Linked DNA regions of Homo sapiens: region 2 is linked to region 1. Evidence: fine-mapped expression QTL. Tissue or cell type: left ventricle. Region 1 holds a variant in brackets; the other region holds the start of a gene. All regions are shown on one strand. Distances are from middle to middle.

What was found. PIP is the estimated chance that this variant, and not a neighbour inherited with it, causes the effect.
Region 2: MPPED2 starts here. The variant in region 1 is fine-mapped to the expression of MPPED2 in left ventricle (GTEx, PIP above 0.99).

What each region holds. Positions count from the first base shown.
Region 1 is chr11:30,427,369-30,435,477 of GRCh38, forward strand. All of the region lies in intron 4 of MPPED2 (metallophosphoesterase domain containing 2), which reads right to left. Among named protein-coding and RNA genes, the nearest start is that of ARL14EP, 110 kb to the left of the region's middle. The variant G/T (reference allele first, on the strand shown) is at 4,986.
Region 2 is chr11:30,581,617-30,589,725 of GRCh38, forward strand. MPPED2 (metallophosphoesterase domain containing 2) reads right to left here and starts at 4,737. Exons shown (of 7, transcript NM_001584.3): 1 at 4,426-4,737. It overlaps MPPED2-AS1 (MPPED2 antisense RNA 1), which reads left to right and starts at 2,534. Exons shown (of 5, transcript NR_183760.1): 1 at 2,534-2,617. RefSeq lists a silencer at 4,642-4,691.

The DNA.
Region 1 (8,109 bases):
TTGTATGCTATTTAATATTCTAGGGCATTATCAAGGGGATATACAGTTGGGGAGCATTTTACTAGCAAGAAAGCCTGCTACCTGCAAAATAGACCCAAAGGGGACAATTGATAAGTGGACAATAAAATACCATACAGCCATTAAACATAAGGTCAATTGGAAACTCAATGAGTCTGGCTCACTACTGTGTCCCCATCACCTGGCACAGAGAAGATGTGTATTTGTCAGCTGAATTAAGAATGAATGTTCATGAAGAGTTTGTAAGTTCATGAGAAAATTCCTTGATGGTCAGTGGAAAAGTAAAGTATTACCTTTCGTGTATCAGTATGAATTCAAACATGTAAAAAATGCTTTGAAGAAAAAGAAACAGACGGACATGCCTAATGGTTAGGTTATCTCTGGGGGTGAAGGGAGAGGGGAAAGATTATGGGTGATGTGAATTTTTTTCCCTTTCTATTTCTTTTTTTATTTAACTTTTTCTATAATGACTATATATCATTTGGAAGAAAAATTATTCAATGTAAAACTCTCCAGATGGCTAAATGCAAGTGGAGCATGGATGGAAGAATTTGGAGAATTCAACATCTACTTCGACTCTACTTTTTCTAAGGTGGTTTCTTCCCTAGCTACATCCCATTAATGCCCTAGAATATTAAGGGGGTAGGGAAATTAGTGGGTGTGGGGACTTTTGCTCAGGAAGCTGACATACGGCCTGCCTTCTTTCTCTTTACCACCCATTTCCATATGTGGCAATAAAAAAGCATCTTCAGCAAAGGAAGTCTTAAATTCATTCATGGAATGAATATAAGCCACATTATTGAGCACCTGCTTAGTGCCAGACATCACTCTGTTGCTGGTATATATCTCTCATCTGACTGAGAAATTTCAGTTTAAATGCACACAACATTATATATCTGTATACCACTTTGCTGCTTACAAATAATTCTCACATTTATCAGTTTACCAAGAGGTGAGCAAAGTATTAATTTTGGGAAAAACAGTCTACATAAATAGGATTTTGGGGGCCAGGCATGGTGGCTCATGATTGTAGTCCCAGCTACTTGAGAGGCTGAGGTGGGAGGATCCCTTGAGCCCAGGAGTTTGAAGATGCAGTGAGCTCTGATACACCACTGCACTCCAGCCTTGGCTGTCTCTAAAAATAAAAAATAAATAGAAGTTGTAGCGACTTGTCTAAGGTCATCTAAGCTAAGTTGGCATGAACCAGAACTTTGTAGTGCAATGATTAAGTTAAGAGGGTTAGAAGTTAGGTCTGGATTCAAATTCCAGCTGCTTTCTACTTAGCAATATGACCTTGGACAAGTTCATCTGTTTGATCTCAGTTTTCTCATCTATAAAACGGAGATAAAAATAGCAACCATACACGTATGTTGTGCAGATTAAATGTGATAATATATGTAATACATTTAGCAGACAGCCTGCCTATATAGATTAAAAATTAAATGGTGACTCTTATCATCATCATTATGAATGTTAATATCATTATAGATATTAATATCACCAACCCTTTGGTTTTTGTTCCCTAACTTATCTTCTCCATACTTCATATGACCTCCAAGTTTACCTTTTCTCTACTTTTCAGATGTAGGATGTGGATACCAAAGAATTGAGTAGATCTGTCACAAAGCAATGGAAGATGACATTTGATATGGGTGGGCCAACTGCGAATAAAAAGAAGACGTTCACTTGGGAGATAGAAAAGAGAAGTTCTAGTCATGACTTTTCCAATTTACTTGCTATATAACCTTGAATAAGTACCCTCTCTGAATTCCTGTCTCCTTACCTGTGGAATGAAGACAAAAATTCCTAAGGCTCTAGCAAGATTGTCAAACAAAGGCCTATATGTGTGAGTTGCAAATAAAAGGAAAGCACCTTCTGATAAGTGTCTTCTAATTCCCATGTCATTTCTTGTCCCTGTGGCCTGTTTGTGCTGTTTGAAAGCTCGGGGGAATTGGAATAAGTGACAAGGAGGTCAGATGTAAGTTAAAGTGTTAGCCCCCATTTATCTACCATTTTGGCTCTAAACGACTAGTTTCAGTCCAGACCGATTTAGTAAAGTGAGAAAACTGTGACTGCAAACTGGCAGTACACACAATCAGAGGAATGAGTAAAAAGCTTAGACTGCCCTTCAATTCAGAGGTTAAAGCAAGCACACAGACCCGGTGTCTCCCTCACTGTGTGCCAGCCAACCATATATTATTAATTGGGCTCAACAAACATTATTGAGCACCTTCTACTGCAAAACTCTGGCAGGGCGCTCTGGGGAGATCTAAATGCAATGTGAGGCAATGCCCCACTCTTCACCAACCTGCCATCTGGTTGGGATAACAAGATCATCACAGGCAAAACTGTTCTCCCATATCTCTGCCCATTAAAATTTCACTGAGCCCTCAAGGCTCAATTCATAATTAGATTTTCCCCAAGAAGCTTTCCCCAATCCCCTCAGCCCTTTGTTTAATCCTCATTTCTGGAATTTGTCATGCTCTGCATTATAACTTGCTTGTGTGTGTCTTTTTTTCTCAAAATTATTTCCTATCTCATTCCGACAAGCATTTGAATCCACGTTGTGTTATGGGTATGTCTATCTTCTCCCAGTGGGTTGCAAACCATGTCCTATTTATCTTGGTGTCCCCCAAGATCTAGCACAGTGCCTGACACAAAATAGAGGTCAAGAAAATATTCATAACAATGAAAAAGTCAAGACAGCTTAAAATAAGTGCCCAAGGGAATGAGCCAGATACTACGTGTAACTGGAGGAGGTTAGGAAAGGGCAAGGCAAATTAAGATTGGGCTTTTAAAAAGCAAAGGTCATTTAAAAATACTGGATTAGACATATCACAGGCCTGTGCTGCCCAATATGATAGCCGTATTTACTGAGCACCCGAGATGTAGCTAGTCTGAAAACGGAGATGTGCTGTGAGTGCGAAACACACATCATATTTTGGATGCTTCATATTAAAAAAAAGAATGTGAAAATACTTTAATAGCTTTTATATTGAATACATGTTTAAATGATTGCTTTCTGATAACTGGGTCAAATAGAATATATCATTAAACCAAATTTTATTTTATGTTTTTACTTTTTAATGTGGCTACCAGAAAATGTAAAATTACCTATGTAGTTCACGTTATATTCATATCGGAAAATGCTGTCACAGGCCATATATAATGCTTATACTATGATTCAGTAATCCCTGTCTAGAAATTACATCCTAATGAAATAATCCAAAAGTAAGTAAAAATGCTATGCACAGAGTTGTTCACACAGTGTAATTCGTAACAACAAAATATTGGGAACAATTATTTCTAAATTCTGCAGAAAAAAGAATGGTTAAAAAATTTGCCATGATTGGAATATCCAGTAAAATACATATTATGCAAATGTTAATTCTGAAGACTAGGTGGCAACACAGAAAATCCTTAAGACATCATGTTGCTTGAGAAAAACCAGCCCACAGCATACACTGCACACCATGTCTATGTTCAATCTGCATCTGGGCATGCTCTTCCATTCACCCATCATACATGTGCAGAACTATGACTTCCCACCAGGTTCTGTATTCAGGAAAAATCAGAATTAGAGATGAAAGAGGATGAGGAGGCAGCCAGGTAAACAGACAATTGTGTATAAAATATATGCAATATATATATGCAAGGTGAGATGAACACACCTAAGTTTTCCGAAGCTAAGAAATGGCTGCGAAAAATGTGAAGAAAAACAGGAAAGCTATTCTTTTTGTCATGGATGATGTGGGGCTTTTTTTGCAGCGGGTTGGGGGGGATTCCTAAGCTTTCCTGGATTATTACGATAAAAAGGCAGACTAGAGACCAGCCTCTGTCTCTACATTGAGCCTCTGGCACACAGCGTGTGTGTATTCTCTGTTGGTTCACTGTTGGCTCCACTTAACACTAGGTAGCACTTAACAGTGCAGCTCTGAAGTCAGACCTGTGTCTGAACCAGCTTTAACACCTCCAAAGGTGTGAACTTGAGTAAGCTGCTGCACCTCTCTGAATCTGTTTCCCAATCTGTAAGATGGAGATAATTATATTATCTATGGCAATGACACATTGTTGGGAACATTAAATGAAATAATCCACATAAAGCTCCTAGCAGAGTGCATGGCACATAATAACCCCTAAATAAATGTTGGTTTTATTGTTATTGTAAAGATTAGGAAACAGCATGATACAAAATTGATCAGAATGATAAAGCAGATGGTGGAAACTGCCTGTTTCCTACACTACATTCTAGTTGTATTGGGTCATTACTTTCACTTTCTAGAATCTTCTATAGCCATTGAATTTACTCAACCACGTTTTCTTCTGTGTTGTTTTCTGTTTTGTTTTGTTTTTTTGTTAATGCCTTAAAGGATGATGAAATTATAAATGTTCTATATAATGTGATATTGAAATGACCTGATAATTATTTAGGTCCTCTGTCGCTTACTCAGTGGCATAACTCATAAAAGACAGACTGCATTTTCATTTCAAATTCCACTTTTTTTCAGCCGGGCACGGTGGCTCACGCCTGTAATTCCAGCACTTTGGGAGGCCAAGGTGGGTGGATCACCTGAGGTCAGGAGTTTAAGACCAGTCCGGCCAGTATGGCAAAACCCCATTTCTACTAAAAATACAAAAACTGTGTGGTGGCAGGCACTTGTAATCCTGGCTACTTGGGAGGCTGAAGCATGAGAATTGCTTGAACCCAGGAGGCAGAGGTTTCAAGGAGCCGAGATCGCGCCACTGCCCTCCAGCATGGGGGATAGAGCAGGATTCTGTCTCAAAAAAAAAAAAAAAATCCAATTTATCAATCTCCAGGTAACCTCTCATAGTCAAAACTAAAACCAGGTCAATTGCTTTGTTGTGTCTTAAAGAGATGCTGATGAATTCAAGGAATCTTGAAAACAGAAACATTTCATTTTTCCGATACTCAGTCTTGCTCTTTTCTCTTATTACTAAGCAACTTT[G/T]CATGAAAACAGACTCTGTTTTATAAATAGAACATTGTGCAAGGTTTTCTAGAGGTGTCTGCTAAAAATAAAGCAGGTTATAGTTTACTTCTTTATAGCTTTCAAAACAAAACAGCCTAAGCTTGACTAAATTTGCTATATTTCATTTTTGAAAGGTATCTTTATGTGAGCCAGGTCTGATTTCTTGAAATGAAATTCCCCAGAAGTTAGATTTCCTATATTTACACAAGGCATGCCTGTGCAAAGTAATGACACTAGTTTTTTTTTAAAAACATACGCCCTAGAATGAATACAACTTAGTGATGCTATACTTCCACCCTATAAAATACACAATTCTTTTTTGAAAATTGCTTATTTGAAGAGTAAAATAAACATTTTGATGTATATATTTCTAGGTTATCTGCTCACAAATCAACAGCATTACTTTGAAGCTAAAGTACAGGTCCCCAACTTGTGAATTACATTCTAAACTATTTCTAGGTTGCCTGGTTGGAGCTAAAGTGTCATGGTATGGAAACAATGCTAGGTTCCCAGGCAAGTCCCCAGGAGCCAAGCTAACTGATATGATAACATACAATGTTAGAACAATGTGAACGTGGAAAAAAGCCTCTAATCTTCAGCTTTTGATACTAGGCACATGTTTCTCCTTGCACTGTTCTGATGGGGGTCCCCAATCTCCAGTTCGGTGATGGCTCTAGAAGCTGGGTACAGGGACTATGAGTTGGAGAGAGGTGAACCAAGGTTTCCTGGTGTAACTTTTAAGGGTAGTGTTTCTCATACTATGACCAATAAATCTGATTTGCTGAGATTGTTACAGATCAGAAAGGGTTCTATGGTTAAATAAGTTTGAGAAATGTTCCTGCATTTTCCCTCCAATTTTAAGGTATAAAGTGAACATTACCATAGTAAAGATTCTGAGATACCCTGCAGAAAAGAAGCCTGTTTGATGTAATGGATCCTGTTCTAAACATATTGGACCCCCTATAAATTCTGTTTCACTTTTTTAAAATAATGGCTATTCATAAGAGCTAACATTTACATAAAGCTTGCCATGTAGCATGTACTATATGAAACATTACACACAGCATCTCTTTGAGGTGAATGCTGTGATTAACCTTATTTTACAGATGAGGAAACTGAGGCAAAAAGAGGCTAAAGATTTCCAAAGTCACAGGGAGATGTGCTTAACTACCATGCCAGAATAAACCCTGGAAGCCGATCTCCTTGAATGTCACTTTAGGAAACATTATCCAAAGGGCAGGTCCACCCCGTCACTGCTTTCTTTTCTCACATTGGTCCCTCGCTATCATGTCTCAAGCCCATGATTATTCTGAAGCTGTAGTGGGAAATTTTCAAAGGGATAAAAGTTTCTCTCTTTTGCAACAGAGATAGATAGAAAATTCGTTCACATTTCAGAGGAAATCTAGGCTTACTCTATCCTAGTATATTGGTTTCCTATGGCTGCTGTAACAAAACAACCCACATTTATTATCTTATAGTTCTGAAAGTCAGGAGTCCAAAATTAGTCTCACTGTACTAAAACCAAGGTATTGGCAGGGCTGGTTTCTTTTGGAAGCTCTGAGGGAGAATCTAATTCCTTGCCTTTTACAGCTTCTAGAGGCTTCCCACATTCCTTGGCTCCTGGCCCTAAATTACTCTGACTTCTGCTTCTGTGGCCACAACTCTCACTCTGACCCTCCAGCCTCCCGGTTGTGGGGACCCATGTGATTACACTGAGCCCTCTCCACTAATCCAAGATAATCTTCCCATCTCATGACCCTTAATTTAATCACACCTGCAAAATCCTCTCTTCCATGTAAGGTAACATTCACATATTTCTGGGATTAGGATGTGGACATCTTTAGGGCAGGGTCATTATGCTGCCTACCACATTGGCATGTCACTACTGATGAGCTGAAGAGGAGGTGGGCAGGGATCCAGAATTCGCAGGGGAAGGGGGAAGAGACAAGGTCATGGGGCATATCCCTTCCTCACTTGCCCCTCTTACCATCACCAGCTCATCCACAATAGCCCCTGAACAGCAGAGGTGAGATAAAAAGAGGAGTGCAGGGCTGTAATTCTCAAACCATGGTGTGTTTACCCCCAGGAAGTAACAACTGGATCCACAGATCATCCTGGTTTATCATCCTGGAGCAATAATTTTCATTTAAGATATTGAGAATTTTCTAATTTAAATCACAATTTTCATATTAATACAAGCTTGTGCATTTCCAGTTCTGCATAAAAACATTTAAAAGCTCTTCCTAGTTGCCAGAGTACACGGAGATAACACAGTCTAACTCCAATAATAATAGTGATATTTAAATAAATTGATACCTATGAAATGCTTAGATCAACCTGGCACATAAGAAGCTCTCAGTAAGTGATACCTTTCCGTTTTGTTGCTATTCACCATCACTGAAACAATTGTACAGTTATCTGCTGGGTACTTTCAATGCATTAGCTTCACAAGAACTCTGGAAGATATAAAGTGCTAATTTTTTTTTTTCAGTTTTACAGACGATCGAATGAGGAAAGGTCCACAGTGTTTAATCACTCGATTAGGGTCATGCATCTGACTGGTAAAGTTGAGATCCAAACTCAGATTTGGTTGCCTTCAGAATCCCCAGTTTCAATATTTCTTCTTCTCCTTCAAATTTGCTACCCAAGTTTCTCTGGGGCCAGGACAATGTGTCAGAATCATGAGTTAAACCAGAATTAGCATAGTTTGCGAGTGCATTCCTAACAGGCCCTTGTTTGTATGCTTTCTGAGTTATTAGTTCTGCAAAGAACACATTTCTTACTTCCTTATTTTGCCAGTGTTTTAGAAGGCGAGGGACCAGAATTCTGTTCTCTGGAAAGTGGGTTATAACTGCATGGTATCCCATTCTCCCCAGTCCCCTCTACTCTTTATCTGGTGACACACCATCTCTTATGTGAAATGTCTGCTAGCCAGTCAAATATCTTCTTCTTAAAGCCTTTTAACAAGCACACTATCAAAAGTGGTGCTGTCTGCCTTTTTCAATAAACGGAAATTTCCAAAAGTCAGGTTTTTACTGGCTTTCCCTGAAACAGAAAACTCTGAACCAGTGGCAGTGACACTCGATCACAGTGGCTATACATT
Region 2 (8,109 bases), 150 kb after region 1:
TAATAAGATGAGATTTAAAATTGGCATGAAACACCTTAAATATCGAGCAAAAGGCAGATGGCCTGCCATAGGCCATTTATTTTATTATTTTACAACCCGGGGCTTGAGTAATCCCCCATATGCTAGCTGGGCTAAGAAATTCCAGAGTGTTCTACTCAAATCATTGCCTTCTTCATATTAGCAAAGCAAGCTAAATAACACCCACCTTGCCTGCCTTCCTAATGTCAAGTGCACTGCCAAGAGATGAATCCCCGTGCTCTGGCATTTTAAACAAAGTGTCACTTTGGGTTCTCTTTCTTTTTCCTGACTTCATGGGAGGTATGAGTCTTTTAAGCGCCAGATGATAGACAACCAGGCCAGTAGGATTAACTAAATTAAAATCTTTCCCTGCTCCTCTGATGTAAGATATCTATAAGAACTGCTTACAAATCATAATGTAGCAGTTTTCATACCAAGTTTGCAGCTGTTTCCTTAATTTCTCCCACAATTATATTTTACTGTTATTTTGCATAACAGTAAAACACAACACCTGCTTCAAATTGCAGTCCTGTTCTAAGTACTGTAATTCTCTTTTGAGACACAAAGTACCGAGACACTACTGAAGCGCAAAACTGCATAATTGCGTCGCGCTGAAAAGTAAATACAAATGAAAACATCTTCCTGTTATAGAAATGACTGTCATTAAAAAGAATGTTAGCCATCAAAGCACAGAGGGGGAAAAATTCACATTTTCAGACTGTGAGAAGTTAGTGTTTGCATAAATTAGAGAGTGGTGTAAAAATTACTTGACAATTCTTATGTTCATTCTTCCATCAATGTCTATTGTGTGAAATACTGAACATTAAGAAGCAAAGGAAATCAAATTCATGTCTAGACCGCTGTGACCTCTGAGTAACAATCTCTGCACCCAGTACTAGAAAGATTTTAAATGTTTCTGGAGTAAACACACTAATTAAACCAAGCAAATGTGGCCTAGAAATAAAATATACATACCTAATATTTAAACATCTAGGTAATGACTTGTAGCAGTTAGCATGATACCCACCCAAGTTCTACTATTTGAAGCTAAGAAGAGACAGAATTTAGCAGCTGATCAATTTGCACTTCTACATGGTCCGCTTGATCCTAATGTCAACCTTCTCTATCACTGAACATCTATGCCTCTTTGCACCTTTGCCCCAGTAAGACAAATAGAACATCTTTTCATCAGCAAGCACAGGCCCCTGTAACTCTGAAAGGCTAAATGGGTGGCTGGCACCTCATTTGAATTCATCTTTGCCATGTTCCCTTTCAAATGTTTCATCGAAACAGTGCACCTGCAGCGTCTATCTTCTTTAATCTGGAGTCCTTTGAAGAAAATGTCAGACTGAGGCAGAGAGCTTCAAAACTTTCACAGCACCTTTACAGACAAGTCAAGAAAAGGCTTATTTTTTAAAATGCTATGTTCATCCCCACCCGTATCTCAAAATGAACACATCTTAAGAATTTTAAACACAAACACCTGGAAAAGACTTTTTCTTTTTTTTTTTTTTTTTTTTTTTTTTTTTTTGGTAAACTCTCAGAGACAAGGGACAATAGACAAAACCACTTCCTATAACCTGAGAAATTTGGAGAGAGCTTGAAACAAGACAGAAGGATACACTGCTTACAACTATCAAGAAGATGTATATTTAGGCAGTAAAACCTTCCAAATGATCAGATTTTCGTGCATCTCACCCTCTTCACACTTACTTTAACTTTTTACACACAATATTTAAAGACAGCACTATTCTTTTCATAAATTTTCATTTTATACTTCAACACACTTTCCACAAAACAAAGGAACCCAGGACGAAATATCAAGAAGCCGAAAGAAAAATCTAAAAGGGACTGACACTGCCAAACATTCATGCTGGTGCTAGTTTGATTTTTCTCTTTAAAAAGAAAATCATGTGAGTACATTTTGCATTTCCTAGACAGCAATCACTTCTGTCCTTTAAGCTGTACAACTAGCAATATTCTTTTCCAGGAATCTAGTTGGAAAACCTTTTAAAGTCGGCTGGCAATGAAGGGATTAAAAGCTGAGGAATTAAATAACTGTCTCCACCTCCTAGACACCAGAAGTCCAATTTACCAAAACTTTCAAAGCAACAACTCATGACCTCTCTACCCCTGCACTGCCCAGCACAGCCTATGAGAAAAGAGCCCGCGGTTTTCTCGTTTCAACAAGGATGCTCATTTTAATCACTTGCCCCAAGATCTCCAGACCGAGCCTGGCGGGACTTTGGAACTTGCCTGCTCCAAATCCGCCAAATTTCGCTCTCTCCTCCCTCTGCCGCGCAGATCCAGTGCGTTCTTAATTCACGCCCCTACTCTTTTATGCCCACTTCCAGTTACTCATCCCTGTATCTGGGAGCGATGCCCACACGCCTTCCCGGCGGGCTTCTCCGCCAGGGTTTTTTTGGGGGAGGCTGACATAAAGTTCCACGTGCTTCTGTCCACCGAGCGCCCTCCCTCCCACCGCACTTACACCTGAACTTGTCTCCAGCACTGCGGACACCCGGGTGACACATTCTTTCGGAGAGGGAGGGCAAGACTTTTCTCCGGAGCCTCTGGCAACTCGTGGAGTCTATATAAGGTGGGGCGGTGGGGGGCGCGGAATTCTCTACTTTGGATTGGTTTGTTTGTTTTAAATCTAGGGTGGTGGGCAGTTGCGCGAGGCGGGGTGGGGGGTGCTTTATGAACTACACACACACACACACACACACACACACACACACACCACATACACTCGCCCTGCCCTTCTAGGCTCACGGCTGGCTCTTCCCGGCTACAACTTCCCCTTCCTTCCTGAAACACCAGCGCCTTACTCGCTCAGTCCCCCGTTGCCACCTCCGTCACCTCCTCGGCCGCCGCTCCTGCTGGCACTGCTGGCGCTAGCGCTGGCGGCCCCGGGCTCCGCTGGACGCCTATCTTTTTTCTCTCCCTCTTCCCTAGCTCTGGATTGATTGATGACCACCGGCGGCCAATGGCTCTGACACCACGCCATCCTCGGTCGGGCATCACAGCCCCACGTCCCCGACCTCAGCCTCCCGGGCGCGTTGGCATCCCCGAACCCACAGCGCTGAGCCCGAGCCCGGGGCCGCCGCCTCCTCCCTGCTCTACGCCTGGGCGCTGCCAGGTTCCTTCCCTGGAACGGCGGAGAAAGGAAGGGAGGGAGCCAGCGAGCGTTGGAAGGGGGTGTGGAGGCCACGGGATCTCCCCCTCTTCTGACATCTTTTTTCACTTAAACTTTTGTTTGTCCCACCCCCCCGACCTGTTTGTGTTTGTTTGCAGCATCTCAAATCAATTATACATTTTTCATGACCCGCATTTGCACTTAATTTGGGGTGTGTGTGTGAGAGGGGGGTGGTGATGTACTATTATAAATCAACTTCACTGGGGCATCCTTAATTTATTTTCTTGCTGACGGATTCCAACCGGCTCCTGAGCCTCTAGAAAAATGCCCCCTTCACCTCCTAGGCCGCAAAACCCCGGAATTCAAAGGCTTTACAAAGATAACCTTGTTATACGTAAATAGCAAAGAAACTCCTGCCTCTGTAGAGAAGAAATCCGGCGGCAACGGTTACTTTTCCTCGGTACTCGTCCCCCGTCGCCTAGCCTCGACCCCAGCTTGGGTCGCCGGGTCGCTCCGCAGGCTGCGAGCGCGGAGACCCAGGCAGCGGCGGAGAGTGAGGTTGGGGCGCGGGGACGGGGTGAGAAAGAGCCCCGAGCGAGAGCGGCGCGCGCGGGCGGCCCCGGGGGCGGCCGCGGGGCGCAGCCGGAGCACAAAGCTGCGCGGTGCCTTCCCCTCGTCACTGCACCTGGCCTCGGGCCGCCGCGGGAGCCCGGGGATCGGGCCAACACAATGCACCCAGGCCTAGGCCGGGGCGGCTCGAACACATCACCCCGGGACTTTCTAGTAAACAGCTCGCTGAGCCCTCGTCCCCACCCCCATCCCCGCCGCCCGGCTTCCCCAGCTTCTCGCCGATACCCCCTCCTCTCCTCCTAAGAAATCCTGGCGGAGGAGGGAGCGAAGAGGTGGGGACCCCCAGAGGTCGGGGGACTGATGGCTGGAGGGGGTGGAGAAGAGAAGAGGCGCAGGATGGGGAGTCGGAGGGAAGACACCTCCTAAAAAAGAATTTGCTTTCGCTCAGGGGTTGAAAATCAGCCCTCCCCGAGCGCCGAATTGCCCGGGAGGCGCCCGCTCGTGCGGATGTCAGGGGCACCGGGGCAGCCCGGGTCCGCAGCCTCCGAGCCCCTCGCACGCGCCTCTGACAAGGCACCTCTCACCCGGGCTCCGCTTTGTGTGTGCATTTTTTTCCCTTCCTCTAGTGCTCGGCACCGGGCTCCCGGCCGCCTCCTCCCCCTCCCCCGCCCTCCGCCTCCCTTCCCGGGGCGGATTACCTTTCCCGGGCTGCGCTCCGGATCCCGGGGATGCCTTCAGCGCCCGGCGAGCAGGCGATCCATAGCCGAGCGGCCCGAGCCGGCTGGAGGAGCGCTGGGGGCGCGCGGGGGCGGCGAGGGGCGCGAGCGGGCCAGAACCTTCGACCCCGGAGGTCCCGCCGCAGGCTGGGGCTGGGGGCCAGGGGGCGCGGCGCTAGAGGGAGGCGGGGGGAGAAAGGACCCGAGCAGCCTCGATCTGGGGAGAGAGCGAGCGAGGGGGCGAGGAGAGGGAGCGAGGGCGCGGCGAGCCGGAGGGAGAGCGAGCGGTGCAGTGACAGGGACTGCCACTGGGGTCAAAGGAGCACAGCTCCAGGAAGCAGGGCGGCCGAGGCGCCGCTCCGTGCGCGCTCCCCGGCGGGACCCCGCGCCCCTGCACGCCCCTCCCGCAGTCCCTGCCCACTCGGACCCCCACCGGTGCCCCGAAGCCCCAGGGTTTCGAGAGGAGGAGGGAGCCGAGGGCGAGGCCCGGTAGCCTGCTGGTGCTCCCGGGTCAAGCAGGCGGCAGGAAGCTGAGCTGCAAGTTCATCATCATGAGTGCGATCTGCGTAAAAAATGATAGGGGAAGGAAGGCGGGCTACGGTGCCCCAGGAAAAGAAGGGAGCTTTCTCCCAAATGGTGTTCTTCTGCAAAGAGAACACCCAGCTCCCCGCCACCCACCGACCTGCCAGGCTCTGTCAGGAGTCCTGGCACCGTTCCAGGACGCAGGGCTCACCGCAGGGGTAAGGGGAGCGGCTGGGACACTTCGCTCAGACCTAGGAAGGCGACCCTAGGTTCCCTCCCATCTGCTGATCTGAGGCTTTCCTGGGGGAGAGCTGTGCTCCTTTTTCCCCAAGCCTTTCAACACGACAGACACACACACACACACACACGCTCACTCACTCACTCACACACTCACCTCTTTCTCTCTGCAATGTTGCTGAGAAAGAAAAGGCCAACCCAGCTGATCATTTTTTTTACCTCCATGAATTAAGGCAGATTCAGGACAGGAAGGTGAGGAGAGGCAAAGACTCTAATTGTTTCCATTTTCGTCTTTTGGATAAAATTTTCCCCAAAAGATAAGCATGTCAAAAGCATTTTAAAAATCAAACTTAGTCCAGTTTTGTCTGCTACTTTGGAAAATGGAAGAAAAGGTTTTCAGAATTTTGTACAAACAACACAAGGAAAGGAAATGCCGCTGAAATGCTGGAAGACAGAAAACAAGGGAGAGAAGGCTTTTAGAAAACTTGGTTGGCAGGGTTGTCTGTGAAAGATGAGGTGGCCCTGTGATGTTATGCCATTGTCATTGCTGAAAGATTGGGACAGCAACCAGATCTAATTCCTTTCTAGGAGTCAGACTGAAAGATCTGTGCATTCTCTGAAGGGAAATCCAATGTATATATATGTGTGTGAGAGAGAAGTGTGCTAAGTATACTATGTGACAACTGACTAGACATCCTGGCTGAAATTATACCCCCTAAAAATAAAAAGGAGCCATTGCAACCTGGTCTGTGGCCTCTGTGCTGAGACTAATTGGTTTCCAGGGTCTGGGGAGGAAGGGAGAGAGGCTTGTAGGAGCCCCTATAAAAAAAGATCAAACGGAATTCACTTGAAAATATTTCCCTTTTACAATGGGCTTTCCTGGCACTTGAATTTTAAGTAACCCATCTCTTATGCCTAGGCTGAAATGAAAAGGGAAATGGTCTTACTAATGTATTTATTTTATTTTACAGCATGCCCAGAGTGTCAGTGCTTGTCAAATGTGCTGGGGTGGAAAGGACAGTGTCTTTCCTTGCCCAGCACAAATCAGAACAAGTGACATTGACATTAAAGGATGCCAAAGATGGGGGCATAGAGGCACCTTTAAATTTTGTTTTCTTTTGTTTTCTAGCCCATCAGCGAACACTGACTAGAATCACGTTTTTGAAGAAATGCTTGGTTTTGTTTCCTTTACTCTGTGACTGAGTACTACATTCCTCATATCTTAATAGTTTGAATTTTTAGACTGATTTGGGCTGATTTAATCAGTTCAAAAAAAAAAAAGCATCACCAGCCAAATAATTTCTGTGGTTTCCTTCTTTAAAAAAAATTGCAGTCAAACAAAACAGACAAACTAGTTTGAACATGATTCTGAATCTAAATATGTGCACCCAGACAGTAAATAATAATGCTTTCTACTTTAGTGGTACATTTTACAGGATACTTAATGCCATAAAAAATCAAGTGGGTTATCCATTACAAAGTTGATGGAAATTTGTATACCATTTTACTGAGTGGGGAAAATTGAGGTAAAAAGGCTTAAAATTGTAATTTGTAGTGCTGGAAGAAGTCAACCTGCTGATAGATCAATTATCCAATAGTGACCAAGTTATATTTGGATTATGAAATTTTATTTTCATTAGGCTACTAGCAAGCTGGAGATATGAAAATGAATTTAAATAATAAACCAGGAACAAAAAGACACTCACTTTTCAAATAATTCTCTTTACGTGGATTTGAACATATTGCATTTTGTTAAATCATATTGTCTACAAATACAGCTACCTACACTAAAAGCTTAATTTAAAATTATTGGATGTGAACCATGTCTATCCCATCTCCCATATAAGCTTTGAAATGTTACCTCATTATATCAAATTTTAAATCCTATAAGCTTCAGCTTTTTTTTAAAGATAAGTGAGTCTATAAGTTCCATTTTCGTTGTTGTTGTTAAATTCAACTTTTATTGTGTATAATGGAAAAGAAAAGAAGGATGAAAATCAAATACTAAGTTTATGATTGGCTTCAAGGAAATATTACAATTTTTTTCTTTTAATGGAATTCAAAGCTGGACCCTTTCCCCAGTGATTTCATTGAAGGAACTGGTAAATATGCTTCCTGATAGCCCACTGCAATACCTTTTAAATTATCTTTTCAGAATGCATTTAGGAAAGAAAATGAGAAAGAGGAGCGTGGGAGAACTTTGGGTGGAAGCTTGGAAAGAAAATGATGCTTCCCTTGAAAGCTCAATACTTTATTTGGAGTTGGCTTTCATCTTCCCTATGAGAACAGGTTTTCCTGTACTTCAGAGATGTGTATGACTTAAAACTTGGTTCAATACTGTGGTTCTTCTTCTAAAAAGCAATCCATTGAAATTACTGCATGTTATTGAATAATTTCATTGAAATGATATGTACCAGTCTAACTGCAGGAACAAACAGCAACTATTTTATTTCTTTTTTTCTGTAAGTTGTAAGCATTTCTATCATTTTACAGCAAAGGCTAAGATGTATATTATCAGAAATCAGAGCCTCTTAATAGAACTACCACTATGATGTAATTAGAAAATAAAACTCAACAAACTATTTTATTTTTCTGAATTCTCACAGTTCTTATGTTCATTCAAATGTTTTTATTATGACCCCTCCAAGTTGAATAACAATGTCCTATATTTCTTTGAGTTCTTTATCTTTATGTTGGAAATAGTTGTTAAATGACTGTGTGGGTCAATAAATGAGAAAGTAAAGAAGAGAACACACCAGTGAATGAGGCAAATACAGAATTAAGAAAAATCCACACCAGATCTGTGGGAGAGGAAGTGATGTCATGAGGCAGTGTTGTAGGATAAGAGCTAAGGACTTCCCAAGGAGTTAAAATAGCACATTTTAAAGGTCTTGCTAATGCCTTTAG